2 separate regions of the Homo sapiens genome follow, and region 2 is linked to region 1. Evidence: fine-mapped expression QTL. A gene starts in region 1. The other region holds a variant in brackets. All regions are shown on one strand. Distances are from middle to middle.

Region 1 (8,452 bases):
AATCGAAGGTCTTAAGCATGGCAAAGCATAATATGGTTCCTATCTTTAACTTAATCCTCATGTCTGTCCATCCCCACGTATACTTTGTATTTCAATTTATCAAATTATTTACAGGCCCAGAACATAAAATACTGCTTCAGCCTTCAGGCCTTTAGATAATATTTCCATTAGTTGAAATCTTCTCCCTCTTTACACGCCACTAGGTCACCAAACTGTCCCTGAAATTTCCACCCAACTTGGATATTTACTCCTCCAAGATGCTTCCCTACCCCTCCACTCCAAAATTAATCACCCTCTTTTCTATATTCAGTGTATTACTGCATGCATCAAGTGATGGCACAACTGTCCATATGTCAGTCCATACTCTATTGTAATGTAAACAATTCAAGCACAAAGTCTAAATTTTCCTGTTGCCAATGCCAAACATGAGGCTTGGCATGTGGTGGTTACTTAACAAATTTCACTCTTATGTTTATTTCTGTACTAATTAAGACTGTAAAATTATCTAGGATGAAGCCTAAGTCTTATAATTCCTCCACAGCACACAGCATAGCAAGAGCACACTGCAGGCATACAACAGTGATGGTTTAGCTAGCAGTGGAATGTTTACCGAAACACAGTTCCATGGACAAAATGCACTTTTCAAACCATATGCTTACCTATAAGATAAGATACGTATGTCCTACTGGAATTGCAAAAGGTCATCTTTATATATATATATATATATGCATTTCTAGAGTTTTGAGCTACAAGAAACCAATAGCAATCACCTAGTCACAACCCTTAGGAAAGAACAGAAGCCTAGAAAAATTAAGTGGCTTACTCAAGGTTAAGACTATAGCCAAAAGAGTCAAGACTAGGACTCAGATTGCCTAGGTTCTCTCACAATCCATGTAGCCTCCCTTTTGTACTATCTGACTTCTCCAAGTATGACTGCTTTACTATTTTATATTTAGATGGTTAATATCCTCAATTGCAGGGCCTTTAAAAATTTTCCTTTTAAAATTTGTCTTTAACAAACAAATACTAAAAGTACCAACAAGTTCAACCAGGAAAACACCATTTCCAGTTCCAATATCAAGCACTGAAGCATCCAGTGGAATCTTGTGTTTCTGCATCCACCTTATTAGTCGATTCATACTCTCTTCTCCAAACCTGTTAGAGAGAATCAGTCAAATAACTGAGGGATACAGAGCAAAAGTCACCACTATATTCCATTTAAGCTATTTATACCATATGCTCAAACTCTTATTTGAAAGTGAAAACATCTGTGACTGCTTCAGCTTTGTCTCTACTGTAATTTAGGAGAAACCACCTCCAGGAATACAACAGAATAGACAAGGTCAGTATGTTATTTACTAACATTTCTCTATATCAGCATTAACAGTTGTATGTGTTGGTGTCTCAGAATTTTATTGTTTATTGACAAAGGACAACTATAGGGTGAAATGCTGTCATCAAACGTAAATGTGAGATATTAAAAGAGGGCTCACACCCATTCTCCCAACACTTTGGAAGGCCACGGTGGGAGGACTGCTTGAGGCCAGGAGTTCGAGACCACCCTGGGTAACACAGTGAGACCCTGTCTCTACAAAAAAGAAAATTTGCTGGGCATGATGGCATGCAGCTATAGTCCCAGCTACCCAGGAGGCTGTGGCGGGAGGATCACCTGGGCCCAGGAGGTCCAGGATGTAACGAGTTATGATGATCATGCCACTGTACTCCAGCCTGGATGACAGAATGACACCCCACCTCTCTAAAAAAAAAAAAAAAGTAAAAAATTAAAAAAGAATAAAAGAAGAGACATACTTTAAATCTACCCACTAAAGCCAGACTTAATCCAGGGTTCCCAGGATTTTTAGGCTTTCTTTGGGTATAAGCACTTGAATATATGCATTTTTTTTTTTGAGATGGAGTCTCACTCTGTCGCCCAGGATGGAGTGCAGTGGCGCGATCTCAGCTCACTGCAATCTCCGCCTCCCAGGTTCAAATGATTCCCCTGCCTCGGCCTCCCAAGTAGCTGGGACTACAGGCGCGCGCCACCATGCCTGGCTAATTTTTTGTCTAATTTTCGTAGAGACAGGGTTTCACCATGTCGGCCAGGATGGTCTCTATCTCCTGACCTCGTGATCTGCCTGCCTCGGCCTCCCAAAGTGCTGGGATTACAGGCGTAAGCCACCGCGCCCGGCGAATATATACGTATTTTTTTAAACACACACACATATACATATAATCTTCTAGATTATAACTTGATTCTTTTCCTAACTCACCAGATTTCACCTGTATCTCCATATTCTCGGAAAGTTTGCAGTTCTCTCTCATAGACAGCATCCCAACTATGTAAACAATGAAATGCAAAGCAAGACTCTTGAATTAAACTGTATTATGAATTAAATGTATGTTTCTAATACATTACAGAGCTATTTATGACAGAGGTTTAAACATCACTAGTGTTATTAATAAATACACATAGTTCAATCTTTTAACGTCCTTGAGTTAAAAGAAGGAAATACATGGGCAAGCAGAATACGTTTATACTGTACATGTAAAGCATTTAGGACAATATCTGATGCACAACAATAAGTTTTAGCCTAAAAAAACACAAAGACATTTGTCCACGTATCCCTAAGTCCCTGACCCAAGTTCAAAACTTGATGAAACAAGCACATCTGGTCTCAAGTGTGCAGGCACACAGTCTCTTTCCTGTGCTATTTGTCTCTGCCTATTCCAGTCTTCTAGCCCTCCGTTTAAATTTTCTCTGGACGCTTTTCTTCTTTTTTTGAGACGGAGTCACGCTCTGTCACCAGGCTGGAGTGCAGTGGCGCGATCTCGGCTCACTGCAACCTCCGCCTCCCGGGTTCAAGCGATTCTCCTGCCTCAGCCTCCCGAGTAGCTGGGACTACAGGTGTGCGCCACCACACCCCGCTAATTTTTGTATTTTTAGTAGAGACGGGGTTTCACCATGTTGGTCAGGCTGGTCTCGATCTCCTGACCTTGTGCTCCGCCCGCCTCGGCCTCCCAAAGTGCTGGGATTACAGGCGTAAGCCACCACGCACCCGGCCCTCTGAATCCTTTTCATTTGCCGTCTCTTTTCCTACAATGATTCTCTAGAATCCCTGCTCCCTCTCATCCCGCCAATTTACCTCTCCCCAACTGTTCCCTGCAGCCATTCATCCACCCACATTAATTCATTTAATAATTCCTGAGCGTCTGTTTGAGGTCAGATCGCTTTCTTTCACCCCAAGATCCCCCACTATCTCCCCGCTCCCGCCTCGGGTCATCCGCTATTCCCACCCCACTTCCAGCTCCCACATCCCTCCCCTCCTACTCAGCCTTTTCGGCTCCCAGGCCCAGCACTTCTCCCTCGGTCTCTCACTCTCGCCGACCAGCCCTATTCGCCAGCCTCGCCCTCTCCCCCTTTCCCCCAAGCCTGGCCCTCAGGTTCGAGACTCCCAAAAGGCCTCCCAGGAGCCAAAGCCTGTCCCGCACCCACAAGCCCCTTGGGCTCCAATCCCTTGAAACGTCGGTTAACCGCGTAGGGCGACCCCTAGGGATTCCACTCTTTGAAATCCCCGTAAGCCCCCCGCCAGGTGGCCCTGCTCCCGTCACGCCCCCGAGGGTCTCCCTGTCCCTGAGCCCCGGGTCTCCACCCCGCCGTCCCCTTCTCGGGGCCCAGGCAGGGCGGCACGGCTCATCCTCCCCTGCCCAGCGTCACACTCACTGCTCGCGGGTCCCCAGCGCCGACGGGACGAAACCGTCCTCCCCGGGACTGCCCTTGTCCGACCGCGCCGCCACCGCAGCGCCACCGCCGCCGTCAGCGCCCGAGCTCATTTCGCTCCACGTCCTGGACGGCCGTTGGGGCCGCCATAGAGACGGGGCACAGGCAGAGCGGACGAGCGGACCGGCGCCTCTAGGCGGCGGGAGGCCGCCCTCTCGACTGCTCCAGCCCCCGCGCTGGGGCTGGGATGGGGACGCGACGCCCTCTGCTCTACCCCCGGCTCCCTGCGCCGGCGGGGACCGTGCGCTCTCCCCACAGCGTTAGTGGCATCCCCTTCGTCGAGGTCCAAGAGCGGCTGTATTTGGGGACTGCTGTTCGTGAGGGACCATTAGAGGTATTGCATTTTGGAAAACGGCTGGCTTCCGCACCGTGGACACCTAAAGCCGACGCCGCTCTACCCAAACGCAGAAATCACTTCACCTCTCCACTGCGTGCGCCTGTCTGCGAAGCGGGTGCGAGCGTCCATCCAGTTATTTGGCTCCTTGGCAAGAGGCCAACTTCGTTTCTGGCTAAGATTCTGACTTGAAAACCGCGTTCTGGCCTCTTGTGACTTGATGTCACCGGTAGACGTGGAAATTTATGTCCAGGGAAAGGAATGCCCTGCAACTCTCCACAATACGCCAAACACGGGGATCAGTGTGTTGTGGAAGAAAGACTGCTAAGTGAGAGGATGCCCGGATAAGCCTCAGCTCTGCCTCGACCCAGGCACCTGGCCTTGCTTAAGTTTGTTTTGTTTTGTTTTGTTTTGTTTTGTTTTTTGAGACGAAGTTTCGCTCTTGTCGCCCAGGCTGGAGTGCAATGCAATGGCGCGATCTCGGCTCACCGCAACCTCCGCCTCCCGGGTTCAAGCGATTCTCCTGCCTCAACTTCCCGAGTAACTGGATTACAGGCGGGCGCCACCACGCCAGGCTAATTTTGTTTTGTTTTGTTTTTTAGACGTAGTCTCGCTCTGTCGCCCAGGCTGGAGTGCAGTGGCTCGATCTCGGCTCGCTGCAAGCTCCGCCTCCCGGGCTCACGCCATTCTCCTGCCTAAGCCTCCGGAGTAGCTGGGACTACAGGCGCCCACCACCACGCCCGGATAATTTTTTGTATTTTTTTTAGTGGAGACGGTGTTTCACCGTGTTAGCCAGGATGGTCTCGATCTCCTGACCTCGTGATCCACCCGCCTCGGCCTCCCAAAGTGCTGGGATTACAGGCGTGAGCCACCGCGCCCGGCCTAATTTTGTATTTTTAGTAGAGACGGGGTTCCTTCATGTTGGTCAGGCTGGTCTCGAAGTCCCGACCTCAAGTGATCCTCCCGCCTCAGCCTCCCAAAGTGCAGGGATTACAGGCGTGAGCCACCGCGCCTGGCCTCTTGTCTAAGTCTTAACCTCTGTGTGTTTCCTCCCTGTACCATGTCAGAACTAGACGGTGTCTTTGTTCCACAAAACTGCTCCCAACCCGCGAACCGGAGATTGCATCTGCCTCTGGGTCTGAGTGCCATTGGTAGATCTGCAGTATAATACAAGAGATCTTATGGGCCAAAGTCTGGGGTATTTTCTGTAGTAGCTGTGAAATACTGCTGGTCCTATGTCCTAGGCAAGGCCCTCAAATGCCCCTAGCGAGACTGCCTTCCAACCAAAAGGAATTGTTTGCTAGGCCACGTTTCTGTTGTCTTGGCAGACAGAAGCCCAGTAACAAGTCCCTAAAGATAAAATAGCATCAGAAATCCTTCCTAGGATCGGATGCGCATCTCCTATAGATGCTGTTCTGAGATCTTCAGGCAGCCACTAGTGATAGGGTAAGATAAAAGGCAGACAGGAGGCCGGACACGGTGGCTCACGCCTGTAATCCCAGCACTTTGGGAGGCCAAGGCAGGCAGATCACGAGGTCAGGAGATAGAGACCATCCTGGCCAAAATGGTGAAATCCTGTCTCTACTAAAATACAAAAAATTAGCCAGGCATGGTGGCGCGCGCCTGTAGTCCCAGCTACTTGGGAGGCTGAGGCAGGGGAATCATTTGAACCTGGGAGGCGGAGATTGCAGTGAGCCGAGATTGCGCCACTGCACTCCAGCCTGGCAACAGAGTGAGACTCTGTCTCCAATAATAAAAAAAAAAAAAGGCAGATGGAAATCCTTGTGCGTAATGATTAAAGTAAAGGCCGGGCGCAGTGGCTCAAGCCTGTAATCCCAGCACTTTGGGAGGCCGAGGCAGGCGGATCACCTGAGGTCAGGAGTTCGAGACCAGTCTGGCCAACATGGCGAAACCCCATCTCTACTAAAAAGACAAAAATTAGCCAGGCATGGTGGCAGTCGCCTGTAATCCCAGTTACTCAGAAGGCTGAGGCACGAGAATTGTTTGAACCAGGGAGGCGAAGGTTGCAGTGAGCCAAGACTGCACCACTGCACTCCAGCCTGGGCGACAGAGTGAAACTTTGTCTCAAAAATAAATAAATAAATAAAATAAAATAAAATTCAAGAAAGAACTTAGGTAACCTTATTACAGAGCAATAAAACCACCGGATGACCCGGCCAATTAGTGCTGCCCTGGGCAAGCGGTTGTTTTGATCTTTTCTAGGTTCTAGATGCTAGAGAAAGCAAGCTTGAGTGGGGCTGAGTGAGGCTTTAAAAGTTTTAGGTCAGCCGGGTGCGGTGGCTCACGCCTGTAATCCCAGCACTTTGGGAGGCCGAGGCGGGCGGATCACAAGGTCAGGAGAACAAGACCATCCTGGCTAACACGGTGAAACCCCGTCTCCACTAAAAATAAAAAAAAAATTAGCTGGGCGTGGTGGCGGGCTCCTGTACTCCCAGCTACTTGGTGGCTGAGGCAGGAGAATGGCGTGAAACCGGAAGGCGGAGCTTGCAGTGAGCCGGGATCCCGCCACTGCACTCCAGTCTGGCCAACAGAGCGAGAAACGGTAATCCCAGCTACTCAGGAGGCTGAAGCAGGAGAATCGCTTGAACCCTGGAGGTGGAGGTTGCAGTGAGCTGAGATCGTGCCACTGCACTCCAGCCTGAGTGACAGAATGAGACTCTATCTCAAAAATAAATACATAAAATAAAATATAAAATAAAAGGGGCCTACTTCATTAGGTATTAAATCTGTTCTCTGGCAAAAAAAATTAATGAAATAAAATCGGCCTACATCAGAGTGTTGTTAGGAAGATTAGATAAGTTCATAGACCGTGCATGTACAGAGTGTAGAACAGAGCCTGATACAGTCTGTTCAGTAGATATTAATTATCATTCTTATTGTTAGTGACTTCTTTTGTTAATTTTTTAAAATTATTTTTTAAAGTTTTTGTGGGGCCGGGCGCAGTGGCTTATGCCTGTAATCCCAGCACTTTGGGAGGCCGAGGCAGGAGGATCATGAGCTCAGGAGTTCGAGACCAGCCTGACCAACATGGTGAAACCTCGTCTCTACTAAAAATACAAAAATTAGCTGGGCATGGTGACGTAATCCCAGCTACTCAGGAGGCTGAGGCAGGAGAATTCTCTTGAACCCGGGAGGCGGAGCTTGCAGTGTGCCGAGATCGCGCTACTGCACTCCAGCCTGGGCGACAGAGTGAGTCTCCGTCTCAAAAATAAATAAATAAATAAAATAAAATGTTTGTGGGTACATAGGTGTATATATTTATGGGGTATATGAGATGTTTTGATACGGGCATGCAATATGAAATAAGCACGTTGGAGAAAGGGGTATCCATCCCCTCAAGCATTTATCCTTTGAGTTACAAACAATACAATTACATTCTTTAAGTTATTGTAAAATATACAATGAAGTTATTATTGTCTATAGGCACCCTATTGTGCTATCAAATAGTAGGTCTTATTCATTTTTTTTTTTTTTTTTTTTTTTTTTTTTTTTTTTTTTTTTACCCAGCCTCTGGTAACCATCCTTCTACTTTGTATGTCCATGAGTTCAATTGATTTGATTTTTAGATCCCACAAGTAAGTGAGGACATGTGATGTTTGTCTCTGTGCCTGGCTTATGTCACTTAACGTAATGATCTGCAGTTCCATCCACGTTGTTGCAAATGATCATGTTTCTGTTGTCTTGGCAGACAGACAACATTGGCCCTCATTCTTTTTTGTGTACTCCCTTGTGTCTATGTGCTACTTTTGCTTTATCCATTCATCTGTTGTTAGACACTCAGGTTGCTTCCAAACCTTAGCTACTGTAAACACTGCTGCAACAAACATGGGTGTGCAGTTATCCCTTCAATGTACTGATTTCCTTTCTTTGGGGTATATACCCAGCAGTGGGATTACTGGATCATATGGTAGTTCAATTTTTACTCTTTTGAGGAAACTCCAAACTGTTCTCCATTATGATTTTACTAATTTCCATTCCTACCAACAGTGTACAAGGGTTGCCTTTTTTCCACGTTCTCGCCAGTATTTGTGATTGCCTGCCTCTTGGATAGAAGCCATTTTAACTGGAGTGAGATGATATCTCAGTGTAGTTTTGATTTGCATTTCTCTGATGATCAGTGATGTTGAGCACCTTTTCATATGCCTGTGTTAGTGACTTCTGATTCCAACCTCGCTCTCCCTCCAGATTTGTATTTTCTCTTATTTTATTGTATTGCAGCTGCCTGGATGTCCCTTGCTACATTAAACTCAATGTGTTCAACACTGAACTCACTTGCATTACCACCCCCCCACCATGCCTCCCCACCAAACCCTTTCTCC
Region 2 (8,452 bases), 260 kb after region 1:
CTGGGCTGCCACACAGAAGGAGGTGAGCAAATCTAAAAACCAGGCTTTCCCTTGGCCAACAAAGCTGAGTAAATCCTCCCGTTTTGGTTAAGGGTTGTTAGCACACGAAAATACATTTCCTCGTGTTAAATGCAAGACTCCAAAATTCTAAATATTTTCACTTGCTAAAAGCTATAATCAAGAACAGAAGACTTGAGCAGAAAGAATTTGTGATTTTCCTAATTGGTTGTTTGATTTGTGTCATAATGGAAATTAAGTGTTGGTCTTTGTTGCTAAAGAAAATGAGCCATTCTTGTGTTTAGGATTTTCACACAGTTTAAAAGAACTTGTCTTCCAAATATGCCTTAAAAATAAACTGTATATTAGTTTTAATAGTGTTATTTAATAATAAAGGTTAAGCAAAAAAAAAGGGATAAAAGCAAATAAGCAAACAAACTAAATGACACCTCTTATTCCTGTCTGTTTAGACTTGAGGAATCAGGAATGCAGATCAATTTTTCCTTTTCTAGTTTTCTCTTTCCTACTCTGGCATGAAAATTTTGATCTGTAGCCGAGAAGACTGGTTGAACAGATAAAAAAAATTAGTGATCTCAAATTTTAGGCAGACAGAAGTGGTTCCACCAGAAAACTCATCTTTTGTTACATACAGTGTGCAAGAAATGATTCCAGAATGTTTATATCTGAACGTCATGCAGAGAAACTGGGCACACACAATACAATTGGGCACACACAATACATCTGCTGTGTCCAGCATGGTGTAAAAGCACAGGGGACTGATGGCCACTAAGGGTTTTGAACTTGAGGACTTGCAAAGGCAAGAGCCACCAAGCTACACTTCTTGGAGAGAAATATCTGGAGGTTATATGCTAAACCTATGCAAAACTTAATACAATTTATTAGACTATGTATTCAACTGTCAATTGTAACCATATTATAGAACACTGTGTTATATGTATCATATAGTATATAATAAATTATTAATGAGATAATGTTAAACATTGCTGTCTTAATATATGAAATGGGGGAAGATTTAATCCTCCTAACTTTTAATTATTTAGCTTACACTTAACACATGAATTGCCCTTGTATTTAAATATCAAATAAAGGCAATTATAGGAATTAGCTACTTATCAAACAAATTGCAATGATGAGATATGAATTTGTAAAAAAAATCTTCAGGTTAGATTTTTAAGATGTTTGCCTTTGAATTTTGCCTCAGAGAGGCCTGGAATCCTCGACTGATTTTATGGGGCCTCTACTGTCCTTAGGGGAACCCAACTGGCCTTCTGAGATCCCAGCCCACTCATCTCTTGACACCGTAGGGTCCAGAATGCTTGTATAAGGACATGCTCTCTGCAGTCTCTGCTTGCTCTCAAAACCAATGGAAACCCCCACGTGGGCTGACCTTTTCCTGTTGCAGCCCTTCCTGGGAGCTGGCCCAGCCCAAGGGAGGCCTGGTGTCCAGCGATGGGGCCCTTTGGCCAGCAGAGGGCACTGCACACCCTGCATGGCCTTCCAGAGGCTGCAGAGACAGCCATGAGCCACCATCCTCATTTCTATCCCAACTTAAGCTCTACAAGCACCTGGAGAAAATAAGATCAGCTACTCCTAGAAGGGAAGGCCTGGGCCCATGGATGAGATGCTGCATTTCCCCGAAAGTTCCAGATGTGAAAGAGGCAGAAGGTCTCACCGTTCCAGCAGCAGATGCTTCGTTTCTAGGAGCATGATATGCCAGGGGAAAGGGGATGCAGCGCCAGCGCCTACTTGTTTATCTCCCGAGACGCTAGCTGGGGGTCCCACTTTCACAGCGGAGTGACTGGAGGTACAGGCCAAGAAGGAGGGAGGCTCCCTGCCCAGGGTGTGGAGTCCCCGACCCCAGGGAGCCAGGGGCCACCCTGACAAATGATTTTTCCATTACGTCTGCTGACAGCAACCAGTTAGTGTTGAAAATTGGAAACAACTTGGCAGAGACGGAACACACACAGAGAGGACGGTGCTGGGGAGGGGCCGGCTGGGCTGCTCCGCAAATGCCCCTTAGGCTTTCCATTACAAATGACAGCCTCTGGAGCACTATGCACACCTGATCAACAGGCTCAATTTGACTCAACACCAGGATCAGTTTGCTGTGAGACAAGTATGATCTTAAGATATACAACTTTTTTTCCTGGTAGACACTAATTTAGAAAGGAAAGGAGATTTTTCCAACTTTCCCCAGGAATTGATTCTGGCCAGAATGCACATTAATGTGCTCTCTGGCCTCAATTTGCCCGCCTGACCACAGACACACACACACACACACACACACACACACACACACACACACACACGTCCACCTGACCACACACATACACACACAACACCCCTTTCACCAAGTTCTAAGATGCTGGCCACCTCTTCTCCACACTGGCAGGGTACCTGACAGTTTCTGGTTGGAGAAGAATGGGAGGGGCTGGTGTAGCCCACTAATGCCCCACTACGGGAGACAGATGTGCCTAATTCAGTCCCCACCGTCACAGGACACTCTTTCTTACCATCATTTCAAAGTCGCCACAGTTGTCACAGCAGCAGGATACCACTGAGTGATACAGCACATGCTTGGCCTGATTTGGCAGAGGATGCCTTTGGATAGACCCCACACACGTGCGGATCCTGGGGAGCCCCCACCTGAGCTCCGGTGCCACCTCCCCCAGGCAGCGCCTCTCCACCTTCTCTTCATGGCTCTGATGCCACGAATACCTCACAAGCTTGCTCCAAGTCACATTCAGTGGGACTTGCTTTCACTTTCCAGGACGAGGTTCCTCTGTACAACCCACTTCAGTGTGGAACCTTCAGCAAGGAATGAGGGCTACATGGTGGCCAGGGAGAGGTGGAGACCCGCAGGCATGGTCGAAGATGGTGGGAAAGGGGAGTTCAAGCTGGACGGGCAGAGATAAGCTATCAAAGCAAACGCTGGCTGGGCTGCCAAGTGTCCGGAGAGATTATCTCAAAAACAAGCAGGAACGGCTCCCTCCAAAGGGGCCCACCTGCTGAAGGAGTGGGGACCCAGCCTTCCAAGTTCCATGCCAGCCAAGTTATAGAGTCAAACCAAATCAAGACTCTTGAGCCACCCCGCTCCAACTCTTCTGCCCAGCCTGACGTGACCAGGCCAGTGTAGCCACCGCCCCAGTGCACAGCTCAGCTCCCCAAACCCCACGTCTGTGGGGCCAACTGTTTAGGACACCAGTAGTTTGGGCATGCACTGGGATAAAAGTGCTCCAGGCACCTGGGGTGGCCCATCCTTCATTTCAACTAAGGCATCACTCATCATGCAAAGGCTGGCATCCAGGAGAGCCAACTCAGACCTCAGGAGTGGAGGATTATGTTTGCTTTATGAGGGCAGATACTCTATGCCTGGGTCCTTACAAGTATACACATTCCATAATGCGTCTCTATCACCAAAAGCCGCTCTGCAGCATCATGGGGCACCGGTACCCTGTCTCCTGCGACAGGTCGTGGAAATGATATGTAGAAATCAGACATCCCTAACTCCAGAAAATCTCTAGATTCAAAGACACCGCTTCCCAGACCTTATCTTTTCAACCTGAGTCATAAAGAGAAAAATCTTAGTCTTATCCACAGTTATTTAACATGAAATAAAATAGCTTGCAGCTATTCATTTTGCTTAACACGGTTTTCACGTGGAAGACGGCTACGT[A/G]ACGGAAACCCAGAGGGATGAAGGCTTTGTTTGGTATCCATGACTGCACCCAAAGGGAGAGCGGGCGTCTCGCAGAGTCTGATGGGGAGGAGGAGGGTGGGACACTCCCGTGTCACACAAATTCATCTTTGCCTATCAAATGCCGGGAAAAGGAAGGGTGGGGGTGCGGCTCACAAGAGTTCTTTTGTTTCTGTTATGGGGTGTCGCTGGGGTTCAGCTGTCTTCTTGAATCATTTCACCTGTTTCACAGTGGCTTCCAGTCCCGGTCTCCAGGTCTCTGACGAGTACACCACCCCATTTTAACACTCATCATAGCTCAGAATGTTCCAGGCTATAGCTAAAATATAAGTTAGTGGAAAGAGGTTGCTGGGGAGGAGTAGACAAGGCTCCTGATGAGAATCTTCTAGAGAACTGCAACCTTGTCATAATGAACTGGGGTCCTCACAGGCCTCCTGCACCAAAGTCCTCTGGAGAGGGAGACATCTGGATGAGGAGGGTGGATGGTGCCCATGAATACAGTCACCTATGTGGAGAATTACAGCTCATCGTGAGCTACCATCAGGGATCCTAATTTTACATGAAATCCCACTGGAGAATTCTTGACAAGGTAATGGCCATTTAAAAATCTGCTCTGAGACATTTTATGGGGATATTGTGCATGTTAGAGCCCAAGCCAGACAAATAAATGGGAAAAAAGGTCCGAGGACTCAGGATACCTGGATCCCAAGTTTATGTCCCCACCCCAGACACCATTCGAAAACGGTACATGGAGACCCTTAGGGAAAGGCAGGTCCCTGGAGGCCCACTCCTCATGTACTTCCTGCCATAGTCATCCAAGCCTGAACATTTATGGTCTTGATGTCAATTAAGTCCCCAAAGCAATTAAAATACCTTTTCAGGCCAGGCATGGTGGCTCACGCCTGTAATCCCAGCACTTTGGGAGGCCAAGGTGGGTGGATCACTTGAGGTCAGGAGTTTGAGACAAGCCTGGCCAACATGGCAAAACCCCATCTCTACTAAAAATACAAAAATTAGCCAGGTGTGGTGGTGGGCACCTGTAATCCCAGCTACTCAGGAGGCTGAGGCAGGAGAATTGCTTGAACCCAGGGGACAGAGCTTGCAGTGAACTGAGATCACGCCACTGCACACTAGCCTGGGCAACAGAGTGAGACTCTGTCTCAAAATAGAAACCAACCAACCAAAAAAAAAAAAAAGAAACCTTTTCAATTAAATGCCCACAGGTCACACACTGACTGTTACAGGTTGAATTATGGACCCCCCTAATTATGTTAAAGTTCTAAGCCCCAGGACCTCAGAATGGAACCTTATTTGAAGATAAGGTCGTTACAGCGGCAATCAAATTAAACAGGTCATTAGAGTGGACTCTAATCCAAGACGAATATTCTCATAAAAAGGAGGACAGTTGGACACTTAGACACAGACAGGGGGAAGACGACGTGAAGATGGCATCTAAAAGCTACGGAGACAGGGCTTCTCTCAAATCCTTGGAAGGAAGCACCCCTGCGGATGCCTTATCTCAGACTTCCAGCCTCTAGAACTCTGAGAAAACACATCTCTGTCCTGGCCTGTCTGTGGAACCTTCTTTCAGCAACCCGAGCACGCCAACACATGCCAACAGACGGGAGGCTCGCACCTATCGGTGGGGGTCTGCGCTGCTGAGACCTGCAAGCTCAGGACCCCCCGGCAGGAAGCCTGGTTGTGATGCAGGGGCAGCAATCTGTGCAGAATCCTGGCTTTATTAAAAAGCTCCAAGTCAACCCAAGCCTGCTTTATGGGGAGAGGCAACCTTCACCCTCCAATCTCGCCCCAGACAGCTCAACACGCACGGCCTGAGGTGTGCCCGTGGCCATTTCCCAGCAGTGGTCAGAGGGGCTGCAGGTCCCAGAGCTGACCCCCACAACACGCAGGGAGCAGCCTCCTGAGAGGCTCAGACCTGTGTTCGCCAGGGGAGAGACCCAGGAGGGAATGTTCTAACCTTATTTCCCTTAAGCTGTTTTCTGTGCTCCATGTCTGGGATTTCATTGTTTGGACCGTCCTGCCTTTGTGTTGTCTGTGTTAACAACACCCAGAAGATTCCATCAGCCTCATGCCAGGGTTGGGAGATCAAAGAAAGGTGATCCCCACACGGCCCACAGAGGAGGGAAGAACCTATCAAGAACGCCCTTGGGGTCCAGCAGCAAACGGATGGTGATTGTGCCTTTGAATGCCTCAGTCCGGGCTTTGTGTATCATAGTGTGGGCTCCAGCAGGAATCTGGGGTCCACAATCACAGGCACCATCGGTTCCTGCTTGGCGGCAGCCCCAACACATTCCCATGGGAGCCCAGACGGAGCGCCCACTGGATCTCAGGCTGGAATTGGGCGCTTGGATCAACTCCATTCATATGGCTTTGGGACAGCCACGTGCATCTCCACACTTCCCAAGTTCATGGGAAATTTTGAGAAAAACTTTTCTGACTGTCAAAGCATTCTCTCCGGTCCATTCTCAAATTCTTCCCCCAGAATGAAGTTTATGAATACGCATCACGCAGCATGCAGCCGCTGACCCCAAGTGTACTTATTTCTTCAAAACACAGAACTTTAGGAGTACAAAAGGCTTATTCGAAGAGAGAGAAAAAAAAAGAAAACAAAACCCCACACAACTTCCAGGATAATTCAAGCATGAATCCACGGGGCCACCGAAGCCAAGGCTGCCCCTCAGGGCAGGTGCAGCATTCTCCCAGGTTTCTGGAGTACGACTGGGGGTTCATCTCTGGAGGGCCGGGGCTCCCTCACCTCCAGGAAGGATCCAGTGCATTGTCAACACAAAGGACATGGGAGCAGGAGGAGCCCACTGAAAATGACCCGCCACTCTATCTTTTGAATGGCAACCTCACTGCCCGCCGAACAGAGAGCAAGAGGACACAGTGAAAGGTCTTTTGCAGTCCAGATTCTTGCAGCCCCTCCTGGCATCCCCCAACACAGCAGTGCAAGGAAGGCCCTCTGTCCTCTCCAGGCCCCTCCCAGAGGTTCTCCCAGGGAGGACACCCAGGGATGAGTGGCTCCTGGGCTCAGCCTGCTCCACTCCCAAGGCCCTTGGGAAATCAACAGGCTCAGCTCAAGAGAGGCAGAGAAGGGGTGAGGCTAATAGGTTTTGGTTTTTGGAAGGTCTGAGGTTAGACCCTCTGGGCTTCAGAGACAGCACTTCAGATGATGCCGGGGTGAACATCTCAGACACGCTCCTGAAGATGGGAGGGGAGATCTCAGCCCAGAGCCGAAGGTGTAGACGGGTCTGATGAGTGGGAAGACAGGAAGGGAAATGGGAACTTCACTTGGAAAAGGAGAGATGCCACATAGTTCCGAAGGGCAGGGCACTGGCCACAGACTGCCCTTCATGCCCAGCTCCACAAGAAACCAGGGACCCGGCAGAGGATCAGATTCCACACAGGGACCCTCACTGAGGTTGCACACACATTATCTCAGTGACCTTTCCAGCCCCTACAGGACTTCTGGGGAATCCGAAGCCGGATAGCTCTGCACAGCCACCCACCGGTGACACAGGCGTGCCCACAAAACAGTAGAGGGCCATGAATTGAGGGCCATGGAGGCTTTTCTGAATCACTGCCCCTCCCCAGAGGCCCACTGAGAGCTTTCCAAGCTGAACATGACCCTCTCCCTGAATAAGGCAGATCCCATCTACACTGTGGATGCCAGAAAAAGAATCAATCCCATGGCCCCCGGGGACCCCCAACCTTTTGGAATTCATGTCCTTGTACAAGCTCTGCTTCTAAACAAACAGTAAACAGTATACACAGGTGAGGGGATGTCACTTCTGAGATTAGGTTAAAAGAGACTGTGGCTACCAGTGTGGGCATCCTCCCATCTTCCCTGCCAACTTCCCTCCCTCCCAGAGGCCAGCTGCCATGCCAGCTGCCCTAAGGAGAGACCCACGGAACAGGAAACCAAGGCCCTCAGTCCCAACAGTCCATGAGAAGCTGAACCCTCCCCGAGCCGGGCCTTCAGATGAGACCACAACCCCACTGACATCCTGAATGCAACATTGTCAGGGCCCTAGCAGGAGGCACCAAGCTAAGCTGTGCAGGTTCCTGTCCCATAGACAGTGCAAGACAATAAAGTTTTGTTGTTTTAAGCCTTTACATTTTGAGGTAATTTGTCACACAGCAATAGATAACTAATACAACCCTTTACACAAACTATCACACTGACTATGGTCACTGACACAGTACAGTTCAACAGAAAAGATAAAAACAGTAATACATTTGTAATGCATGGCGTCTAGTTTATACTACCTACAGGACAGAGAACACTAACAAAAAACAAGCGAAACCCTCTAAATCCTCCGCTGCCCAGACTGACATGAGGTCTGTGATATATCCACTTCTGTAAACTCTTGGGGTAAACGCTATTCTCCTCACAACAGCAATGCGTACAAGCTGAAGGAACGGAAAGTCTGCTGTTATGTTCACTTACCCCAGATGCTTAAAATAAATTCCAGGGCTACGCTCAACATGCACAGAGTTAACTCAGGCACCCTGGGGTCTCCACTCTGACTCACGCACACCCATAAATCTGGGGAACATTAAAAAGATCTATCAGAGCCTGGGCCCCACATTAAGAATGCAGCCTCCTAGACCCCCCTCTGAATGGTAATTCACTGGGTAAACAGACCTTCTTGCTTTTTCTTAAAAGTGGTCCTTGAACTGCAGCTACGATTAAGTCTGAGCTCTCAGAGAAAAAGA

What was found.
Region 2: its variant is fine-mapped to the expression of EEF1AKMT2 in hippocampus (GTEx, PIP above 0.99).

What each region holds. Positions count from the first base shown.
Region 1 is chr10:124,788,003-124,796,454 of GRCh38, forward strand. EEF1AKMT2 (EEF1A lysine methyltransferase 2) reads right to left here and starts at 3,885. Exons shown (of 7, transcript NM_212554.4): 1 at 3,722-3,885; 2 at 2,271-2,336; 3 at 1,041-1,155. The coding sequence starts at 3,831. RefSeq lists enhancers at 3,837-4,561, 4,189-4,498, 4,562-5,284 and a silencer at 3,999-4,058.
Region 2 is chr10:125,046,766-125,055,217 of GRCh38, forward strand. All of the region lies in intron 2 of CTBP2 (C-terminal binding protein 2), which reads right to left. Among named protein-coding and RNA genes, the nearest start is that of MIR4296, 18 kb to the left of the region's middle. RefSeq lists enhancers at 1,225-1,808, 5,007-5,763. The variant A/G (reference allele first, on the strand shown) is at 3,695.